Linked DNA regions of Homo sapiens. Changing the gene in region 2 together with the main gene of any one other region gives a genetic interaction. Each region holds a gene or a part of one and is shown on either strand. Other genes may lie near its edges. The genes, in order: WDR82, MCM2 and RUVBL1.

Region 1 (3,653 bases), about 75 Mb from region 2:
ATAAAACACACATACCACAACCATATCTGGAACAAACAAAGGCAACTAGTATAAAAAAAAAAATTTAAAGCTACAAAATAAAAATATATGATTCCAATGCAAATCAAAACCACAATGAAATACTACTCCACACCCTCTAGCATAGCTATAATAAGAGAGATAACAAGTGTTGGTGAGGATGCAGAGAAATTGGAACCCTCATACATTGCTAATGGAAATGTAAAAATGGTACAGTTGCTTTGGAAAAGTTTTTCCAAAAAAAGTTACCACGTGACCCAGAAACTCCACTCCTAGGTATTTACCCAAGATAACTGAAAATATATGTCCACACAAAAATGTACACATATGTTCAGATCTGCACTATTCATAACAGCCAAAAAGTAGAAATAACCCAAATGGTCCATTAACTAATGGATGGACAAACAAAATGTGCTGTATCTATACACTGGAACATTATTTGGCAATAAAAAGTAATAAAGTACTGCCTCATGTGACAACATGGAGGAACCTTGGGAACACCATGCTAAGTAAAAGAAGCCAGGCACAAAAGATCAGATATGAACTGATCCATTTACACAAAATGTCTAGAATAGGCAAATCTATAAAGACAGAAGTAGATCAGCAGTTGGTAGGGGCTGAGGGAGTGATTACTAATGGGTACAGAGTTTCTCTTTGGAGTGATAAAAATGTTCTGAAGTTAGATGATGGTGATAGTTGTCCAACTTTGCAAATATAGTAAAAACCACTGAACTGTACATTTTTAAAGGAATCATTTACAGTATGTAGACTGTATCTCAATTAAAAAAACACAAAAAAGCATGATTCCTTATCAAGATGTGTGAGGACTACACAGATATTCTCAAACCTAAGTGGCATCAGCATCACCTGGAGGGTGGGTTAAAACAGACTGCTAGGATCTGCTCCCAGAGCCTCTAATCCAGTAGGCCTGACTTGGGGTCTGTGAATCTGAGTTTCTAACTAGCCCCCAGGTGATGGGTGAGGCTGCTGTTTTGGGCACCACACCTAGAGAACCACAAGCCTATGCTAACAGCAACTGTATTCCTTTTTTGGTTCCCTTTTGTGGTTATACCATCAAGAGACACTCACTGAAAAACATTTTCTTCCAATGTAACTCAACTAACATCTGCACCAGCTCCTCAAGTTAAAATTTTAAAAGGTATTGTTAAAAGCCAAAATTTCCTGAGAATGCTGAGGAGGTAATAAAACACAATGAGCAGGCCAGGTGCGGTGGCTCATGCCTGTAATCCCAGCACTTTGGGAGGCCCAGGTGGGCGATCACCTGAGGTCAGGAGTTTGAGACCAGCTTGGCCAACATGGTGAAATCCCACCACTAATAAAAATACAAAAATTAGCCAGGCCTGGTGGCGTACACCTGTAATCCCAGCTACTCAAGAGGCTGAGGCGGAAGAATCGCTTGAACCCCAGAGATGGAGGCTGCAGTGAGCCAAGATCACACCACTGCATTCCAGCCTGGGAAACAGAGCAAGGCACCGTCTCAAAAAACAAAAATCAGAATGAGCAGAACACGTTGTGGACATGTAATTTTATGCCATGGCATTCAGCCCAAGAGCTCAGCACAAGACTCTATGCTGAGAAGTACAGGGAACACATGGAGAAGTAAGACCCCGACCGTAAGGAATTTTAACTGTCCAGTCCACATGACTCCAAGAGGACCAGAGAAGGCTTCTGGAAAGATACAACATCTGAGGTAGAAAGGATTTCAAAGAAGTAGCCCAGAGTTCACCTTAATGGGAATGGTGGGAGAAAATGCTGAGAAAATGGGTCAGAGCCAGAAGGGACAGAACCTGACTACAAGGGGAAGGAGCAATGAAAATATAGAGAACCATTAAGAGAGATTGTGAAGCAATCAAACTGCAATCCAGGAAGCTGAAACAGGATGGTAAGAGATGGGAAGATTAATTAGGAGCTAACAATAATTTACCTCACAGGGCATGAGCCAGGGCAGAAGCAAAGGAGAGAACACAGAGGAAAGTGACACATGAGGTTAAACCTAGGGAGAACTAAATAGTTTAACAACTCACTGAATATGATGGCAGGGGAAAAAGAGTGAACTAACAACAGATGCTTTGAGCCAGAATTGGAAGAGACAGAGATGAATAAATATGAGGAAGACAGAGAGAAGCTGGCCCAAAAAAGGTAACAATGATGGACAGAGTACTGGACCTGAGTATTAGAAAGAGTATTGGACAGAAGAGACAGCTACAAAGATGTGTATAAAACATGTAGGTGGTGCTGGGTGCAGTGGCTCATGCCTGTAATCCCAGCACTTTGGGAGGCTGAGGCGGATGGATCACCTGAGGTCAGGAGTTTGACAGCGGCCTGGCCAACATGGTGAAACCCTGTCTCTATAAAAACACAAAAATTAGCCGGGCATGATGGTGCGTGCCTGTAATCCCAGCTATTCGGGAGGCTGAGGCAGGAGAATCGTTTGAACTCAGGAGGTGGAGGTTGCAGTGAGCCAAGATCATGCCATTGCACTCCAGCCTGGGTGACCCGGTGAGCCTCCATCTCAAAAAACAAAAAAACAAACAAAACCTGTAGGTGGAAGGCGGGTCTGAAACTGATAATAGACATGAGCTAAAAATACTGATTTGGGAAGCCACCTGAATGGAGGTAAATGAAATCAGCGATGGAGATAAGAAAGCGGATAAAATATTTGTTTATTTTAGAGTCAAAACAGAGGCTGAAAACTACAAGAACAGAACCGACATGGGAAAAGTCACCTGCCACGGGAAAGTAAGTTTTACTGAGAGGTTAAGCACCAAGAAAAGCCCAAACCAGTGGCTTTTTAACTAGAGGCAGCAGGGAATGAAGGATAAAGGTTTGGATAAAGCCCCATAGACGATTCTGGGACTAGTGCAAAAATGATTTCAACAGTGAACATGTGTGAGGAGGTGGAGATGGGAATGTACAGATTCTTCTTTCAAGTTTGATAGTGAAAAGGAGTGGGTGATAGGGTCAATAAGTAGATTTAAGATAAGAAAGACCAAGTAAATTTGTAGGCAACAAAGGAAAGGCCAATTAAGGAGATGGAAGCAAGCAGAAAGAGGAAGGTCTGTTTTGTGAAAGAAAGACAACAGCTTTCTCAAGGAAAGGATTCCAAGGAAGACAGAATTTAGGTGGAAGGGATAGATGTTTAAAAGAACTCTTTTTTTTGGAGACACGGTCTTGCTTTGTCACCCAGGCTGGAGTACAGTGGCACAATCATGGCTCACTGCAGCCTCAACCTCCCAGACTCAAGCGATCCTCTCACCTCAGCCTCCCAAAGTGCTGATAACAGGCCTTAACCACCACACCCAGCTGAAATAACTCATTTTGTATAGCCTTGATTTTCTCATAAAAGGAGGGACAAAGTCATCTATCAAGAATCAGGAGGTCGGCCAGCCGGGTGCGGTGGCTCACGTCTGTAATCCCAGCACTTTGGGAGGCTGAGGCGGGCGGATCAGGGACCATCCTGGGTAACACGGTAAAACCCCATCTCTACTAAAAATACAAAAAACTAGCGGGGCTTGGTGGCGGGTGCCTGTGGTCCCAGCTACTCAGGAGGCTGAGGCAGGAGAATGGCGTGAACCCAAGAGGCGGAGCCTGCAGTGAGCCAACATTGCACCACT
Region 2 (3,653 bases):
CCAGCCGCCACTTTGCCTGGACTCTCCTGGATTCGGATACGCTGGTAGTTCTGATAGATGGTCTGCGAGGGACACACAGAAGGCCTCAAATCACTGACTTACTATGTCACCTAACCTTGACCCCCGAACAGGAGGGAGAACAGGCAGGATTCCGACTCCTGAGTGGCAAATGGAGAGCCAAAGACAGCAAGGAATGAGTTCATGGCGACTCAGCACATCAGTTGACAGTCCCCACTCCTGCCACACCATCCCTCTGGGATGCCTTCTGACGGCCAGACTCAGCACCTGCTCTATGCTTTACAGCTAAGCTGTCTTGAGTACCGATGCTGGAACCAGGCTGCCTGGGTTCTGTGTCTAAGCTGTGTGATCTTGGGCAAGTGACTTCCTCTCTCTGTGCCTTCTCTGCAACCTCACAATAAGAATTAAAGCAAGTCATACATACATCAACCTAATCCAGCATCTGATAAATGTTAAGTTACAGGAAGTTTTGGCTGTCACTGTCAAGTATCACAGGCCAGCACTGTGCCATGTCATTTCGTACCCATTATCTCACAACATGGCACTGCAGTTAAAAGCACATGCTCTAGATCAAGATGCCTGAGCTGTGGACCTCTAACACACATTCTGGTTGGGTGACCTCAGCCAGTTCTCTAAACACTCGGCAAAGTGGGGCCAGTAACAGTTCCTGCCTCATGAGCTGTGAAAAAGGACCAGGTAATAAACCACCCACCACCTGGCACTGGTAAGTTACTCCATGAATGATAGCTGTAACTGTTAACCCTCTACCAGGTACTATCTCAGGTCCCTAGAAGCAAGGCCTGAGGGAGACAGACAGGGCATGGGAAGAGTGAGCAAAGACGTGGCTCAGCTGGCATCTGGCCTGCAGCTGCCCCACCCGAGACGAGACGGGTCAGCTTTTGGCTGTAGGTGGCCACAGGTGGAACCTCTGAGGCATTTTCTGGCAAGGTGGCTCCAGCTGGGACAGTTCGCAGAACTGCACTGCAGAGCGGTGAGAAGAGGACAGCCAACAGCCACAGCAGCAAGGCAGTCAAGGGGCCTGGGCGCCACCACAGCGATGGCGATGAGCCCATTTACAGGGACGCTCAAGTACAAAGGCACATTACATGTGCCTAAGACCTTAACATCAGAGGCTTTGGCAGCGTCTCCTGAATATGGTGCAGGAGGTTGGTATGGTCCAGGGGCCCCACGTGAGCCAGACAGGTCCCAGAAACAAGCTGAGGGGAAGTCCCGATGGGACTGCAGCCACCCCACGTGAGTGATGGCACCATGGAGACTGGTAAGCACACATCCTGAAGGAGTGACCTGGCAAGAAGTGGGCCCTGTTTGCCAGATCTTCTCATGTTTCAAGAGGAGCCATAAACTTGTATGGTTTAAACAAATCGCCTGACTTAAATATTGACTTGAATTCCTAAAAACGTCGTGTGGGCCAAGCTAAGTCCACTGGCCAGACAGACTGGGTCCACCCCAGGGTGTGGCCAACACACAATTCTATCTTGCTTCTTGCGGCTGCCCACACTGGTCTTCCACAGCCTGAGAGGCCAGTCAGGTCCTGCATACTGGGCACCCCTAAGGACAGCTGGCAGCAGACCTTGTGTCCTCTCTCACCTCCTCCATGTTGACCTCAAAGGGGCCGGCCGACTGGCACTCAGGACAGGAGCCTGGTTTCACCTCCTGGTTCTGGGACTGGCAGAAAGGACCCAGGACGAAATTGCACTTGTTGCAGTTGTACTTGACCATGCTGAGCTGGGGCAGGACGCCAGTGCAGCTGGTCACCACCCCACTGGTGCGGATCAGCTGGTTCAGATGCAGCTGCCTGCGGAGGCAGAGGGTGCATCAGAAGCCGTGAGCCAGGGTGAGGCCAGGCTGCAGACGAGAGTGTCCCAACACACTGTCCTGGAAATTGGGCCCAGCCCCCAGCCCGGGAAGATCCCTCCCATCACACTCCTGTGCAACCACAACTCACCTGCGATGAGGATGCTGCTGGCTGCACCCTCCCCGCCCACACCACAATCGCTCTTCAGGAATCACGACCGAGTCACCCAGCACTGAGCTCGGACCTGCCATCCTCACCTGCCCTCAGCTCACCTCAGCGAGCGCAGCTCCTCCACCAGAGGCAGGTGGGAGATGCGGACATGGATGTGGTTGGTGATGCGGTCGTACTTGGGGTACATGGCCAGTACCACCTCCAGGGCAGCCTCATCAAAGATCTGCAGCAGCTCCGCCGGTGCCTCAGGCAGGAAGTAGGCCAGCACGTGCTCCCTGGCTGCCAAGTCCTCATAGTTCACCACCAGGCTCTCACGGTTCTCTAGAAGGGGGCACAGTGGGAAGAGAGTTAACTAAGCATGAGGCCTGGGCTGGGCTGCAACAATGCCTGTGTGAGAAGCAAGGCCTACCCACCCCGACCATTGATTTTGACCTAGAAAGCCCAGCTTTCACTTCTAGGTCTACCACACTTCAGCTGTGACATAGCCTGAGCTTCAACTTCCTACTCCGTAAAATGGGCATGTCACACAGTGTACAAAGTTGCTGGGGGGTTAAATTAAATATGAGCAGAGTGCCTACACAGCTACAAACATGAAACGCCTTACAAGAGCCAGGAAGAAACTGACAAACACAGGACAAAAAGCAGTGGAAGGAATTGCAGGAATCAAGATCTACATGTCCCTTTTAAAAGTCAATTCCTGGCTGGGGACGGTGGCTCACGCCTGTTATCTCAACACTCTGGGAGGCCAAGGCGGGCAAATCACCTGAGGTCGGGAGTTTGAGACCAGTCTGACCAACATGGAGAAACCCCTTCTCTACTAAAAAAAAAAAATTAGTCAGGCATGGTGGTGCATGCCTGTAATTCCAGCTACTCGGGAGGCTGAGGCATGAGAAACGCTTGAACCCAGGAGGCGGAGGTTGCAGTGAGCCGAGACCGTGCCATTGCACTCCAGCCTGGGAAACAAGAACAAAACTCCGTCTCAAAAAAAAAAAAAAAAAAAAAAAGAGTCAATTCCTATTACAAAGATCAAAGTAGTAATCCAGATTTTTATATAAAATCTGTCCATTTTCAAGCTTGTCAAAAAACGCTTTGGTGGCCCAGATGTGGTCACTGCATAGCCAGCAGGAGAGCCCTGATGCAAAACTCAAAACTTTTGGTTTCTCTGACAGACCTCTCAGCCATATGCCCTGTGCTTCACGTGTTCACTCGGCTCAGACAACTTTCTGGGGAGGATTTAGGGAGGCGCTACAGGGGCTGAGGCGGGGGCGTAGGGAAGCCACACCTTTGCACATGTCGCTGATGCGCTCCTTGAAGACGTTGTGGCCGTGGCTGTCGACGTGAGTGCGCAGGAAGTTCTTGAAGCGGTGGTGGATCTCCAGCCGGGGGCCCGCCATGCTCACCCACTCGCGCACAGAGTGGCCTTTGAGATCCTCCAGGTTCTCGATGCTCTCGATCATCTCCTCGTCCTCCTCGCCGTCCTCCGTGGCCCGCTCCACCTGGCGGCGCTTGCGGGCAGGGCGCTCCTCGTCCTCCTCATCGCTGTCTGGGGAGGCAAGAGACACCTGCTACTGCGGTCATCCCCAGCACCTTCTACTCCCCTCCCAGACTCCTTCCCAGCTTCCCAGTCCCTCGGGCAGGCAGACAACTG
Region 3 (2,905 bases), 480 kb from region 2:
ACAAGAGCTCTCACTGGCCAAAGCTGGCTCAATTTGAGCAACAAAATAAATCTACTAAAGTATACAATGAACTTCCGTAAGTCCATTCTGATACAATCTTCCATGCAGAATCCCAAATAATTTTGGTAAATACTCAGTTCTCTAGAGGTGAGCATAACCCCTGCCACTTAAGTGTGGGCTGCATATAGTGACTTCCTTCCAAAGAATTCAGTATGGAAAGGCAGCAGAGAGTAACTTTACAGTGAGAAGACCCGACAAACATGACCTCAGCCAAAGGGTCAAGCTCACCATCAACGATGAGTCATGTTGCTAGCATGTGATGAGAACCACACATGATACGATGTGATCAGAACCACATTTCACCTCTAGTCTTCCTCTCCATAACCCACAATCCCAGTCTACTCATGAGAAAAGCATCAGACAAACCCCAACTGAGGGATGTTCTACAGATACCTGATCAGTCCTCCTCAAAACTGTCAGGGTCATCAAGAACAAGGAAAATCTAAGAAGATGTCACAGCCAAGAGGCATCTAAGGAGACATGACAACTAGTTGTAATGGGTTATCCTGGATGGGATCCTGGGACAGAAAAAGGACATTAGGTAAAACTGAGAAAATGTGAACGCAGTAGAATAATGCATCAGTATTGGTCATTCACGGTGACAAATGTGCTATCTGATGTAACACGTTAACAAGAAGGGAAACTGGGTACAAGATACATGGGAACTCCCTATTGTATGTTCACAATGACTCTGTACATCTAAAACTGTTCTGAAAAGTTTATTTTTAAAAAACTTAGAGAGAGAGAGAGAGAGAATCAAAATAACCTATGAAGATTTATAGAAAACACACCAGGTAAGGAAGGGTTCTTTCAAAGCAACCACAGGAACAGTTACGATAACTTAAAAAGAAATGCTTTCCACACTGAACTGACAGCGCTGCAGACCACGCCTGAGTGGGGACGGCAGCCCCAAGCCCAGGGGCAAGCGCCCACAGGCTGGACCCAGGCCAGGCACACCTGGGGAGTCTCTTACTGCTGAAAACCTCAGCCATCTCACTTCATGTACTTATCCTGCTGGTCAGCCAGGATTTTGGCGGAGGACTTGGCATCATAGAAAAGTTCACTGATCTCTTCGACATGCTCTTTCTCAATGCTGTCCTTCCCGTTGATTTTAGCAAGCAAGTTGGCCGGGGTCAGCAGCTGCACTGAGTACCTAGAGTGGACAGGGGCCAGGGCTGGAGTGAAACTGGGGCCACCGAAGAAAGCACCTTCCCCCCACATCAGTAGGCAGCACTGGCACCAGGAGCAGAGCCCAGTGCTGGGCTTGTGCCAGCTGCTACGAACACAGAAAAGGGGAGACAAAGTTGTCACTTCTCAGAGAGCTGCAGTCATTATCCCATCAGAGAGGGTCCAGGAGCCACCAAGAAGACATAAGTGCTATTCCCCAAATCTTTAGTACAGTCTACAAATCCTCCAGTAGGAAGTAATGTCACTGCTACTGGAAAAGGACTGCAAACTTATATGTATACAGGTGTCCGACAGATAGGGATATTTAACATGGCAGGGAAATGAAAACATAGCCAGCTGGAAGTACATGCCCATCCAAAGGCATGAAGACTCTGCCGTTTTAAAAAGTACCCCTTCATCCAAACCTCACAGCTTGCATTTCTGCCTTCAACCTCAGGAGCAAGAACTGACTCAAGGGATGTAGGGAAGGGCTGAGGACTGTGAAGCAATGATTTTACAATGAGTCAGGCCACTGTGAAGGGACATGCTCTGCCGGTCCTGTGTTTGAGCCGCTGGAGAACAATTAGGAGAACTGTCTATGTCTGCGCTCCTCCCTGGCTCTCCATATCCACCACCCAGACATTTTTTATTTGCTTGATGGTTAAATAAATCAAAAAAGTTAAAGATTTACCAGGCCTCATAACACCACCGGGAGAACAGGAGCCAGGGCCCTGGCTAATGAGCTACCACATGGTCCCTGCTCTCTAGTTCTGTGCATCTTCTCTGCCACAAGAAGGCCCAGGGTCAAAGCACTCTCCACCAGAGGGGAGCATCTGCTGCAGGACATGGGGACTTCACCCTTACTCTAGCTTGTTAAAAACCATCAGATAGATCCTCTGCATTTGAAACTCAAGTGCCCTGGCACCCATCGCGCCAGGAAGAGCGGATGGATAGAGTCCCATGCCCTAGGAAGGGACCTGCCTTTATTGTCCAGAATGACCCCAGCGAGGGCCCTGGCTGTGCTGGGGAGGCCCCGGCGGGCCCAGGGTACCAGCTCACCTCAGTGTGGTCTTGGTGCCAATCTCCCCCAGGTGGTTCAGTGCCTCCTCACTGATGTTGATTCCTTCCGTCTGGGCACGGATTTTAATGATCTTTTAAAGGATAAAAAACATGATCAACGGTGACTGACCTCAAGTGCCCCATTTCTAAAGTGCTTTAAAGACAATGTTGCTCAGATTTCTCACTGTGCAGCATAAGAGAAACTGAGACCTGGGTTGGTGGGCAGGGAGCCAACGCCTGCCCAGCACTGCCGGCCCGGCACCCTCCAGGAGGCATGTGCGGCCCTGCAGTATGCATGAATAGCATCACGGCCAGTGTGCTGTATTCAACTGACTCAAGTGTGGCTGGTGCCCAAGGAGGTATGCAGCTTCCCAAGTGGCTCACTCTTGCCTCCATGTCCTCCCGTCCCCTGTCCCCAGGCAGAGAACTGGGGCCTCTTCTAACCTACCCGGGGCTCCTGCAAGGGCTCTAACCTTCCTCTCCAGCATGGGCACTACTGCCTACAAGCACTCAGGCAAGAAGGGACATTTTTTATTTGCTTGATAAATATGATGGTTAAATAAATCAAAACAGTTACTTTTAAAGATTTACCAGGCCTCATAACATCACCGGGAGATAT

The links.
Region 1: changes in MCM2 (region 2) and WDR82 together harm fitness less than expected from each alone (positive genetic interaction), as found in Homo sapiens cells (one large-scale study listed by BioGRID).
Region 3: changes in MCM2 (region 2) and RUVBL1 together harm fitness less than expected from each alone (positive genetic interaction), as found in Homo sapiens cells (one large-scale study listed by BioGRID).

Annotation. Positions count from the first base shown.
Region 1 is NC_000003.12:52,261,610-52,265,262, forward strand, and holds part of WDR82 (WD repeat-containing protein 82), read right to left. Parts: intron 1-3,653. UniProt on the Homo sapiens protein: Regulatory component of the SET1/COMPASS complex implicated in the tethering of this complex to transcriptional start sites of active genes.
Region 2 is NC_000003.12:127,604,791-127,608,443, reverse strand, and holds part of MCM2 (DNA replication licensing factor MCM2), read right to left. Parts: intron 3,568-3,653; exon of another isoform or gene 3,549-3,567; coding exon 3,288-3,548; intron 2,327-3,287; coding exon 2,107-2,326; intron 1,835-2,106; coding exon 1,627-1,834; intron 63-1,626; coding exon 1-62. UniProt on the Homo sapiens protein: Acts as a component of the MCM2-7 complex (MCM complex) which is the replicative helicase essential for 'once per cell cycle' DNA replication initiation and elongation in eukaryotic cells.
Region 3 is NC_000003.12:128,080,197-128,083,101, forward strand, and holds the end of RUVBL1 (ruvB-like 1), read right to left. Parts: intron 2,379-2,905; coding exon 2,287-2,378; intron 1,214-2,286; coding exon 1,054-1,213; 3' UTR 614-1,053; downstream 1-613. UniProt on the Homo sapiens protein: Possesses single-stranded DNA-stimulated ATPase and ATP-dependent DNA helicase (3' to 5') activity; hexamerization is thought to be critical for ATP hydrolysis and adjacent subunits in the ring-like structure contribute to the ATPase activity.